2 linked regions of the Homo sapiens genome follow. The protein of the gene in region 1 purifies or fractionates together with the protein of each later gene. This does not show direct contact. Each region holds a gene or a part of one and is shown in the gene's direction. Other genes may lie near its edges.

Region 1 (4,087 bases):
AGGGTTTCAGCATCTTGGCCAGGCTGGCCTTGAACTCCTGACCTCGTGATCCACCTGCCTCGGCCTCCCAAAGTGCTGGGATTACAGGCGTGAGCCACCACACCCAGCCTAATTTTTGTATTTTTAATAGAGAGCTAATAATTGTATATTTAATAGAGACAGGGTTTCACCATGTTGGCCAGGCTGGTCTTGAACTCCTGACCTCAGGTGATCCTCCTGCCCTGGCCTCCCAAAGTGCTGGGACTACACTGGTGAGCCACTGTGCCCAGTCTACACACCAATTCTTGTTAGCCCAACAGCTGTGCTGTTCTATCTACCCCTCATTTCATGCTCAAGGAGTCATACCTAGAATAGTTACACACAAGAGGGAAACTGGCAGCCAAACACTGGACAGTATGTGTACAAAGTCACCTCCCTACTCCTTTTATTTTACATGAGTGCTGATGCGTTTTGGCAGATGAGCTTTCAGCTGAGGCCTGATGGAAGTTGAGATAACCTGCAAAGACATAACAATATTTATAGTTACATATCTTAGTTTTTTGTTTTGTTTTGTTTTCTTTTTTCTTTTCTTTTCTTTTTTTTTTTTTTTTTGAGACGGAGTCTTGCTCTGTTGCCCAGGCTGGAGTGCAGTGGCGGGATCTTGGCTCACTGCAAGCTCTGCCTTCCGGGTTCATGCCATTCTCCTGCCTCAGCATCCGAGTAGCTGGGACTACAGGCGCCCGCCACCACGCCCAGCTAATTTTTGTTTTTTTGTATTTTTAGTAGAGACGGGGTTTCACCGTGTTAGCCAGGATGGTCTCGATCTCATGACCTCGTGATCCGCCCACCTTGGCCTGCTGGGATTACCGGCGTGAGCCACCGCTTCCGGCCACTTAGTTCTTGAAATTGTGTGATGAGGCAGCAGGGAGGAGGGCAGGGCGGGCTCCAGGCGGGGGCCGGCTCTGGGGCCAGTCTGGGCCACGGTCGGGGCCCAGTCGAGGTCCGGACTGGTCAGGGTTCAGGCGGGATCTGGCGTCCGAGTTCTGGTGGGCCGGCCTGGGGCAAGATCTGGCTCTGGCTGCGGGTCCTGGCCCGGGTCAGGGTTGGGCCTCCGATCCAGCCCGCCCCGGGGCAGGGTTCAATCCCTCGCTTGCCGAAGTCCCTGGGGCTGGCCGGGGTGGAAGACGGGGAAGTCTCTATGTCGGGAAAGGGGCTCTGAAGACCACGTGGGGGCGCTCGAAGGGGCCTGGGGCCACCCTCCTCTCTGGGTCAAAGGTCATCGCAACGGCCGGGAAGAACTTCCTCTTCCTTGGCTCTCCCCACTTACTTCCTGATAACCTGGTAGCGGTCTCCCGCGGGCGTCGGGGCTTGCGGGGAGGCGTAGCAACTTTAGGCAACTTCCCAAAGGTGTGCTTAGGTTGGGGGGCGGGGCGCGGCGCCCCGGGAGGTGGCGGCGTCTGCGACAGCGGGAATATTAGAGTGGACCTGCAGGCCGGTCGCGAGGAGGTGGAGCGGCCCCCGCCGTGTGCCTGGGATCGGCATGCTGGGGCAGGAGGGCAGCCGCGTGTCAGGTGACCAGCGCCATGTCCAGCCAGGTGGTGGGCAGTGAGCCACTACATCATGGCAGAGCCGGCCAGGCCTGACAGTCCAAAGGGCTCCTCGGAGACAGAGACCCGAGCCTCCTGTGGCCCTGGCCCCTGGTCCAGCTCCCACCCACTGCCTCCCAGGCCACAAGGAAGAGGAGGATGGGGAGGGGGCTGGGCCTGGCGAGCAGGGCGGTGGGAAGCTGGTGCTCAGCTCCCTGTCCAAGCGCCTCTGCCTGGTCTGTGGGGACGTGGCCTCCGGCTACCACTGCGGTGTGTCATCCTGTGAGGACTGCAAAGCCTTCTTCAAGAGGACCATCCAGGGGAGTATGGAGTACAGCTGTCTGGCCTCCAACGAGTGTGAGATCACCAAGCGGAGACGCAAGGCCTGTCAGGCCTGCCGCTTCACCAAGAGCCTGCGGGAGCGCGCCTGGACCGCGTCCGGGGTGGGCGGGAGTACAAGCGGTGCCAGAGGTGGACCCGCTGCCCTTCCCGGGCGCCTTCCCTGCTGGGCCCCTGGCAGTCGCTGGAGGCCCCCAGACGACAGGCCCAGTGAATGCACTGGTGTCTCATCTAATGGTGGTTGAGCCTGAGAAGCTCTATGCCTTGCCCGACCCTGCTGGCCCTGATGGGCACCTTCCAGCCGTGGCTACCCTCTGTGACCTCTTTGACCGAGAGATCGTGGTCACCATCAGCTGGGCCAAGAGCATCCCAGGCTTCTCATCGCTGTCGCTGTCTGACCAGATGTCAGTACTGCAGAGAGTATGAATGGAGGTGCTGGTGCCGGGTGTGGCCCAGCGCTCACTGCCACTGCAGGATGAGTTGGCCTTCGCTGAGGACTTAGTCCTGGATGAAGAGGGGGCACGGGCAGCTGGCCTGGGGGAACTGGGGGCTGCCCTGCTGCAACTGGTGCGGCGGCTGCAGTCCCTGCGGCTGGAGCGAGGGGAGTACGTTCTACTGAAGGCCCTGGCCCTTGCCAATTCAGACTCTGTGCCCATCGAAGATGCCGAGGCTGTGGAGCAGCTGCCAGAAGCTCCGCACGAGGCCCTGCTGGAGTATGAAGCCGGCCGAGCTGGCACCGGAGGGGGTGCTGAGCGGCGGCGGCCAGGCAGGCTGCTGTTCACGCTACCGCTCCTCCACCAGACAGCGGGCAAAGTGCTGGCCCATTTCTATGGGGTGAAGCTGGAGGGCAAGGTGCCCATGCACAAGCTGTTCTTGGAGATGCTCGAGGCCATGATGGACTGAGGCGAGGGGTGGGACTGGTGGGGGTTCTGGCAGGACCTGCCTAGCATGGGGTCAGCCCCAAGGGCTGGGGCGGAGCTGGGGTCTGGGCAGTGCCACAGCCTGCTGGCAGGGCCAGGGCAATGCCATCAGCCCCTGGGAGCAGGCCCCACTCCCTCCCCTCCCCCCTCCTAGGGGATGTCAGAAGCTGGAAACGTGTGTCCGGGCTCTGGGCACAGTGCTGCCCCTTGCAAGCCATAGCGTGCCCCAAGAGTGTAGGGGGCCTTGCCGAAGCCACAGGGGGCTGCAGGGGATGTGTGGGAGGCAGAAGCCTATCTCAGGGAGGGAAGGGGGTGCAGGCCACAGTCTCCCAGTGGGTGATGCTTTTGCTGCTGCTTAATCCTACCCCCTCTTCAGAGCAGAGTGGGACTTGGAGAGCAAAGGCCCATGCTCCCTTTGCTCCTCCTCTCATCATTTGCATTGGGCATTAGTGCCCGGCCTTGAAGCAATAACTCCAAGCAGGCTCCAGCCCCTGGACCCCTGGGGTGGCCAGGGCTTCCCCATCAGCTCCCACCCAGCCTCCTCGGGGGTAGGAGAGCACTGCCTCTATGCCCTGCAGAACAATAACACTATATTTATTTTTGGGTTTGGCCAGGGAGGCGCAGAGACATGGGGCAAGCCAGGGCCCAGAGCCCTTGGCTGTACAGAGACTCTATTTTAATGTATATTTGCTGCAAAGAGAAACCACTTTTGGTTTTGAATCTTTAATGAGAAAAAATATATATACTATCGAGCTCAAAAAGAAAATTGTGGAATGCATGATTGACAATGTATTTTTTATTTCTATTTTTTCAAGTAATGCCAGTACTGTTACAGCCAGCACTGACTAAAATTTTTATATTTTCAGAGTTGACGCTGGTGAAGACATTCATGATTTAAACACCAGATCCTGAAATGTGTTAAATCTACTTTGAAATGAATCTGCAATCAGTATTTCAAAGCTTTTCTGGTAATTTTAGTGATCTTATTTGACTAGACTTTTTCAGAAGTACTAAATAAGGAATTTTAACAGGTTTTTATTAATGCACAGATAAATAGAAGTACAGTGAGGTCTATAGCCATTTTATTAAAATAGTTTAAAAGTTTGTAAAAAAATGAATCTTTGTAATTACTTAATATGTTAGTTAACCCATCAAGCTTATATTTGCTGGACTTACAACTTATTTTAAATACGTTTATCTTTTTTGACACTATTCAGTGGAATGTGTAAGCTAGCTAATTCTTGTTTTCTGATTTAAAGCACT
Region 2 (4,694 bases), on another chromosome or scaffold:
TCTAATGCCGCCGCGGATCTGACAGGAGGTGGAGCTCAGGCTGTAATGCCAGTGATGGGGAGCAGCTGTAAATACAGATGAAGCTTCACTCACTTGCCCACTGCTCACCTCCTGCTATTTGGCCTGGTTCCTAACAGGCCACAGACAGGTACTGGTCCGTGGCCTGGGGTTTGGGGACTTCTGCATTAGGGGAACCGTTAGGAGGACTTGCTGACCTCAGGAGTACCCAAGGTGCCTTTATCTTTGTGACCTTTGATCTCTCAGGGTCACTAAGATGGAGCAAGGTAAAGCCAAGGCCCAGAGTGGTGGGCGGGAGGCAGTTCTTCCCCACCGCTCCTCACCTCTCTCTGTCTCCTCCCGTCCCACCCCCAAGTCTGTTCACACAGCGAGCCTGCAGTTTTCAAGGTGGCTTGTCAAGGACATCTCCTGACATGCACGTTCACCTCCTGACCTTGTTCCTGCTGTAAATTTGTGAATTAAGTGGGGACATAGACATATGCAGAGACTACTGGTGGCAGTACTAGCCTTGTATTTCAGTAGAATATATTTGGTTCATTTCCTTCTTCCCAGTCTCCCTGAGTGATGGTTCCAGAACCCAGCTCCCTGCACTCCGGTTCTTCCAAGGTGGAGAAATTGGGGTGTAGGCAGCTGATCTGAACAAGGGCTGGTGGCACTGTATTTTCCCCCTGGGTTGAACAGTCACCGTGTCCTGCTCCTCCCACTACTGTGGGGCCCCAGCTGTGGATCCAAGCCTGCCAGGGAAGCTGTCCCCACTAGGGCTTCTCACCCAGCCAGCCGCCATCTCACCCCAAATGTCACTGTCCTGACCATCTCTGCTGTCTGGCCCTGTAACCTGTTTCCTTCTTTCTCTAAGTTCCCACCCTCTCTGTCCAATCCACATTATGGCAGCTGGTATCCTCCCCGTTCTCTTCACTCAGGCAGTCACGAACGTCATCTCCAGGAAGTTTCATTTTGCTTCCCCTTGCGGCCCCTGCCCTTTGTACCCAAAACAAAGAGAGGCAGTCGACTGTCCCTGGCACTGAGTTTGTGCTGCCTGGGCCCTGCCTCTCCGCCTGCCTCAGAGTGTGGGCTGCAGAATGGGCCCGGGGAGGGAGACCGGATTTCTTTGATTCTGAGCCCCGTGTTTTCCACGTGTGACATTTCTGAAATCAGGACAGGTCTCAGAATCAATGGCACCTCCAATATGGGAGTCTTCCTTTTAGTGTCTGAAAATGGCTTTTAGGTGAGAAAATAAAGTGATAAGGAGAGAATGGTAAGAGGATTGGGCCCCTTTCAGCAGTTAGCCAGGCTTGTATGCCACGGGTCACAGAGAGAGTTAATTCCCTTCGAGGTCTGGGTCTGCCAGGATGAGGAAAACCTGTCGCTAACCCTTACGGGAGCTCACAGTGCAGTGAGGGGACAGCCCAGGACCAGCGCAGTACAGGGGATGAGGGGTGAGCCGGGCCCCATAGGAACCTGTGTGGCCCTGGGAGCCTGTGGATCTGCTCCATCCCGCCCACACTGACTTTCCTCACCACTCTTATCAGTCTTAAAAGAACACAGCCTGCAGCAGTACCTTTGCATTCCTCCATAGGCAAAGATTTCCAGGAAAAGCAGAGGAAACAATGGTGTATTCGCTGCCTTCTGCCTTGGTCTGGTTTATTTTAAAATCTGAGCCTTCAGTAATGGCTGCCTGGGCCCCCGGCCCAGCCACTGCTCTTGGCGTGTTGGCCTCCTGGCGGGGGCAACAGAGGCGCTGTGAACGCCACCTGTTAACCCCGATGGCCCTGCCTGCCCCACCACAGCTGGAGTTGGCCACGGCCAAGAACGACATGAACCGGCACCTGCACGAGTACATGGAGATGTGCAGCATGAAGCGCGGCCTGGACGTGCAGATGGAGACCTGCCGCCGGCTCATCACCCAGTCTGGAGACCGGTAGGCGCCTCCCCTGGGCATGGGGCCTTCCAGGGGGACACAGCGGGGAGAAAGGTTGGAACACAGCCCCAGAGACCCTCAGGCAATGACTGGGTCACATCTTGCTGTGGGGCTGCCCTTTGGGAGTTACCTGGTGGGGCTGGCCCAGACCCACAGCTCTCTCCCTTGGCAGTTGGATGAGCTATGTCCATTCATGACGGGAGGGCTGAAACCTCCCAAGGCCACCAGCTCTGGTGGTTCCCCTGGTTAGAGGCAGTTTAAAAACTGGCAAGGAACAGAAGGGTTGTGGGGGCAGATTTTTATCTAAAGTCAGGGCCATGATTTGTGCATTTGACCCTGTGTAAGTTACACCGCAACAAGAAAGTGAATTTTTAAAAATCACAAAAATACTGCAGATAGACATAAAGCCAAGGCCCTAGAGTCAGGGTGCTGGAGGCTCAGCAGCTTCTCTCCTACTGTGACTTCAGCTATTTCTTTTTTTTTTTTTTTTGGCTCACTACAACCTCCGCCTCCCAGGTTCAAGTGATTATCTTGCCTCAGCCTCCAAGGCGCCCGCCACCACACCTGGCTAATTTTTGCATTTTTAGTAGAGATGGGGTTTCACCATGTTGGCCAGGCTTGCCTTGAACTCCTGACGTCGTGATCCACCCGCCTCTGCCTCCCAAAGTGCTGGAATTACAGGCGTGAGCCATCATGCCTGACCTCAGCCTCTGAGTTCCCAAGACACAGGCGGGGCCCATTTCCCTGTCAGGGTGGGTTTGGAGAGAGTTCAGTCCCTGCCGCTCCCTCGCCATCCCGCGGCCCCGCCCTCGCTTCCGGTACTTCTCACGGGCTGCCAGAGGGTGAGGCAGCAGGAGGAGGAGTGCCGTCCGTCTTCAGGATTCCTGCCTGCCCCAAGGTTGACAACTGGTGTTTTTTTCTAGAAAGTCTCCTGCTTTCACTGCGGTCCCGCTTAGCGACCCGCCGCCGCCGCCAAGCGAGGCTGAGGACTCCGATCGCGATGTCTCATCTGACAGCTCCATGAGATAGAGACCTGCCTCCCCCTTGCACCCGAGGCCCTCGCAGCAGGGAGCTCAGCGAGGCAGAGGGTGGGGCTGCACAGAGGGGAACATCAGCTGCAGCTCTGCACCAGGCCGGTCCCTGGGGACTGGGGCGCTCCTCCCTCAGGCTTTCTCCCTCAGTCTTGGCTTCTCCAGGGCTCTGGGGTGTCTGGAGCTAGGCTTGGCCCTACCATTCTGGGGCCATTTCCACCACAGTTGGGGCTCTCCTGCCTTCACGCGTGGGTGTCTGCTACTTCCCCATCTTTAAAATGCTGCCAGAGCGATTGCGGCCCCTCACCTTGTCCACGTATCAGGAATGTGAATGTGGGACCTTTCCTCCATCCCTGTTGTCCGGAGCCAGCTCACTGTCTTCCACACTGGTGCTAACTGGCCCAGGCACTGGAGTGGAATAGAATGCAGCTGGAGGCTACGCATGGCCTCTGCAGCACACGCAGCTGGAGAGGGCTTCTGTCCCTGTCAGCGGCAGAGGGCGTTGGGGCTGGCCGGGGCACCTTGTCCCTGCTATGGTCCACGTGCTCACGCTGTCCACCTGCCAGGTGGAGTGTATGTGGCTGTGGCCCTCCCTCGTGGAGGTGCCGTGCTTTAAAGAGGCCTTAGTGCCCGGGATGGGCACAGTGTTTTGAAGGGAGGTGGGAGCTCTTGCTCTCCTGGTCACTGCAGAATGACAGAGAAGGTGAAGCTCCATGCATGTGTGCGCGGGTGTATGTGCGCTCAGGGTCTCTGTTTAAGTATCAGCTAAAGATGTGCTTCCTCCGTGTCTGTCATACACTGAGACCAACAGGCTACAGTGTCCCTGATTCTTGGAAAAGCCTGGAGAAGCTGGGGAGATGCGGTTCACAATGCCTCGGTATAGGAGGCTGTGTTGAGCTGACATTCAAATGGATTCTTTAATAATAATGAAACTGGCGAGTATTTATTGTGCACTTTGGTGTCACTGTCTCAAGCACTTCCTAATATTCACTAGTTTGAACTCTGAGGTAGGTACTTTTTTTTTTTTTGAGATGGAGTCTCATACTCTGTTGCCTAGGCTGGAGTGCAGTGGTGTGGTCTCAGCTCACTGCAGCCTCTGCCTCCGGGGTGCAAGCGATTCTCCTGCTTCAGCATGCCTGTAGCTGGGACTATAGGCATGTGCCATGAAGCCTGGCTGATTTTTGTAATTTTAGTAGAGACGGAGTTTCACCATGTTGGCCAGGCTGGTCTCAAACTCCTGACCTCAGGTGATACACCCACCTTGGCCTCCCAAAGTGCTGGGGTTACAGGCGTGCGCGCTCTACCGAGGTATGTACTTTTGTCTCCACTAGGTAAGCACACGTGCAAAGTGAGGCCCGGGAGTAACTGCCCAAAGCAACTGAGCCGTTCAGTGGCAGAGCCAGGGGTCTGGACCTAGGTCCCAGCTACACGCCTTGCCCCTACCCAAGTTCCCCTAAGGACGATGATGGAAATAAGTCACCCTGACACATCTCAGTTCATCTTCCTCAAAACTATGCGAGGTGGGCATTTTTACCGATTTTTAAACATTATATAGTCCTTACCGCCTTGGGCATGGTTTTAGGTACTTGGTTTACCTAGATGAATCCTGCTTGAAGACCTTAGGGGCTGGCCACGATGTCCTCAGATAAGACACGAGGGCACAGAAAGCAATAGAGCACGTGCTCAAGACCTCACAGCTGCGGAGGCCAAGCTGGAATTGCCCGCTG

Evidence for each region.
Region 2: the proteins of TPTE2 (region 1) and IFFO1 purify together in Homo sapiens (affinity purification with mass spectrometry; 2 studies listed by BioGRID and IntAct, with this or other methods). This does not show direct contact.

What each region holds. Positions count from the first base shown.
Region 1 is NC_000013.11:19,558,733-19,562,819, reverse strand, and holds the start of TPTE2 (phosphatidylinositol 3,4,5-trisphosphate 3-phosphatase TPTE2), read left to right. Parts: upstream 1-1,287; 5' UTR 1,288-1,386; exon of another isoform or gene 1,387-1,481; intron 1,482-3,690; 5' UTR 3,691-3,792; intron 3,793-4,087. UniProt on the Homo sapiens protein: Acts as a lipid phosphatase, removing the phosphate in the D3 position of the inositol ring from phosphatidylinositol 3,4,5-trisphosphate.
Region 2 is NC_000012.12:6,538,754-6,543,447, reverse strand, and holds the end of IFFO1 (non-homologous end joining factor IFFO1), read left to right. Parts: intron 1-1,594; coding exon of another isoform or gene 1,595-1,675; exon of another isoform or gene 1,676-1,798; intron 1,799-1,805; coding exon 1,806-1,936; intron 1,937-2,859; coding exon 2,860-2,965; 3' UTR 2,966-3,909; downstream 3,910-4,694. UniProt on the Homo sapiens protein: Nuclear matrix protein involved in the immobilization of broken DNA ends and the suppression of chromosome translocation during DNA double-strand breaks (DSBs).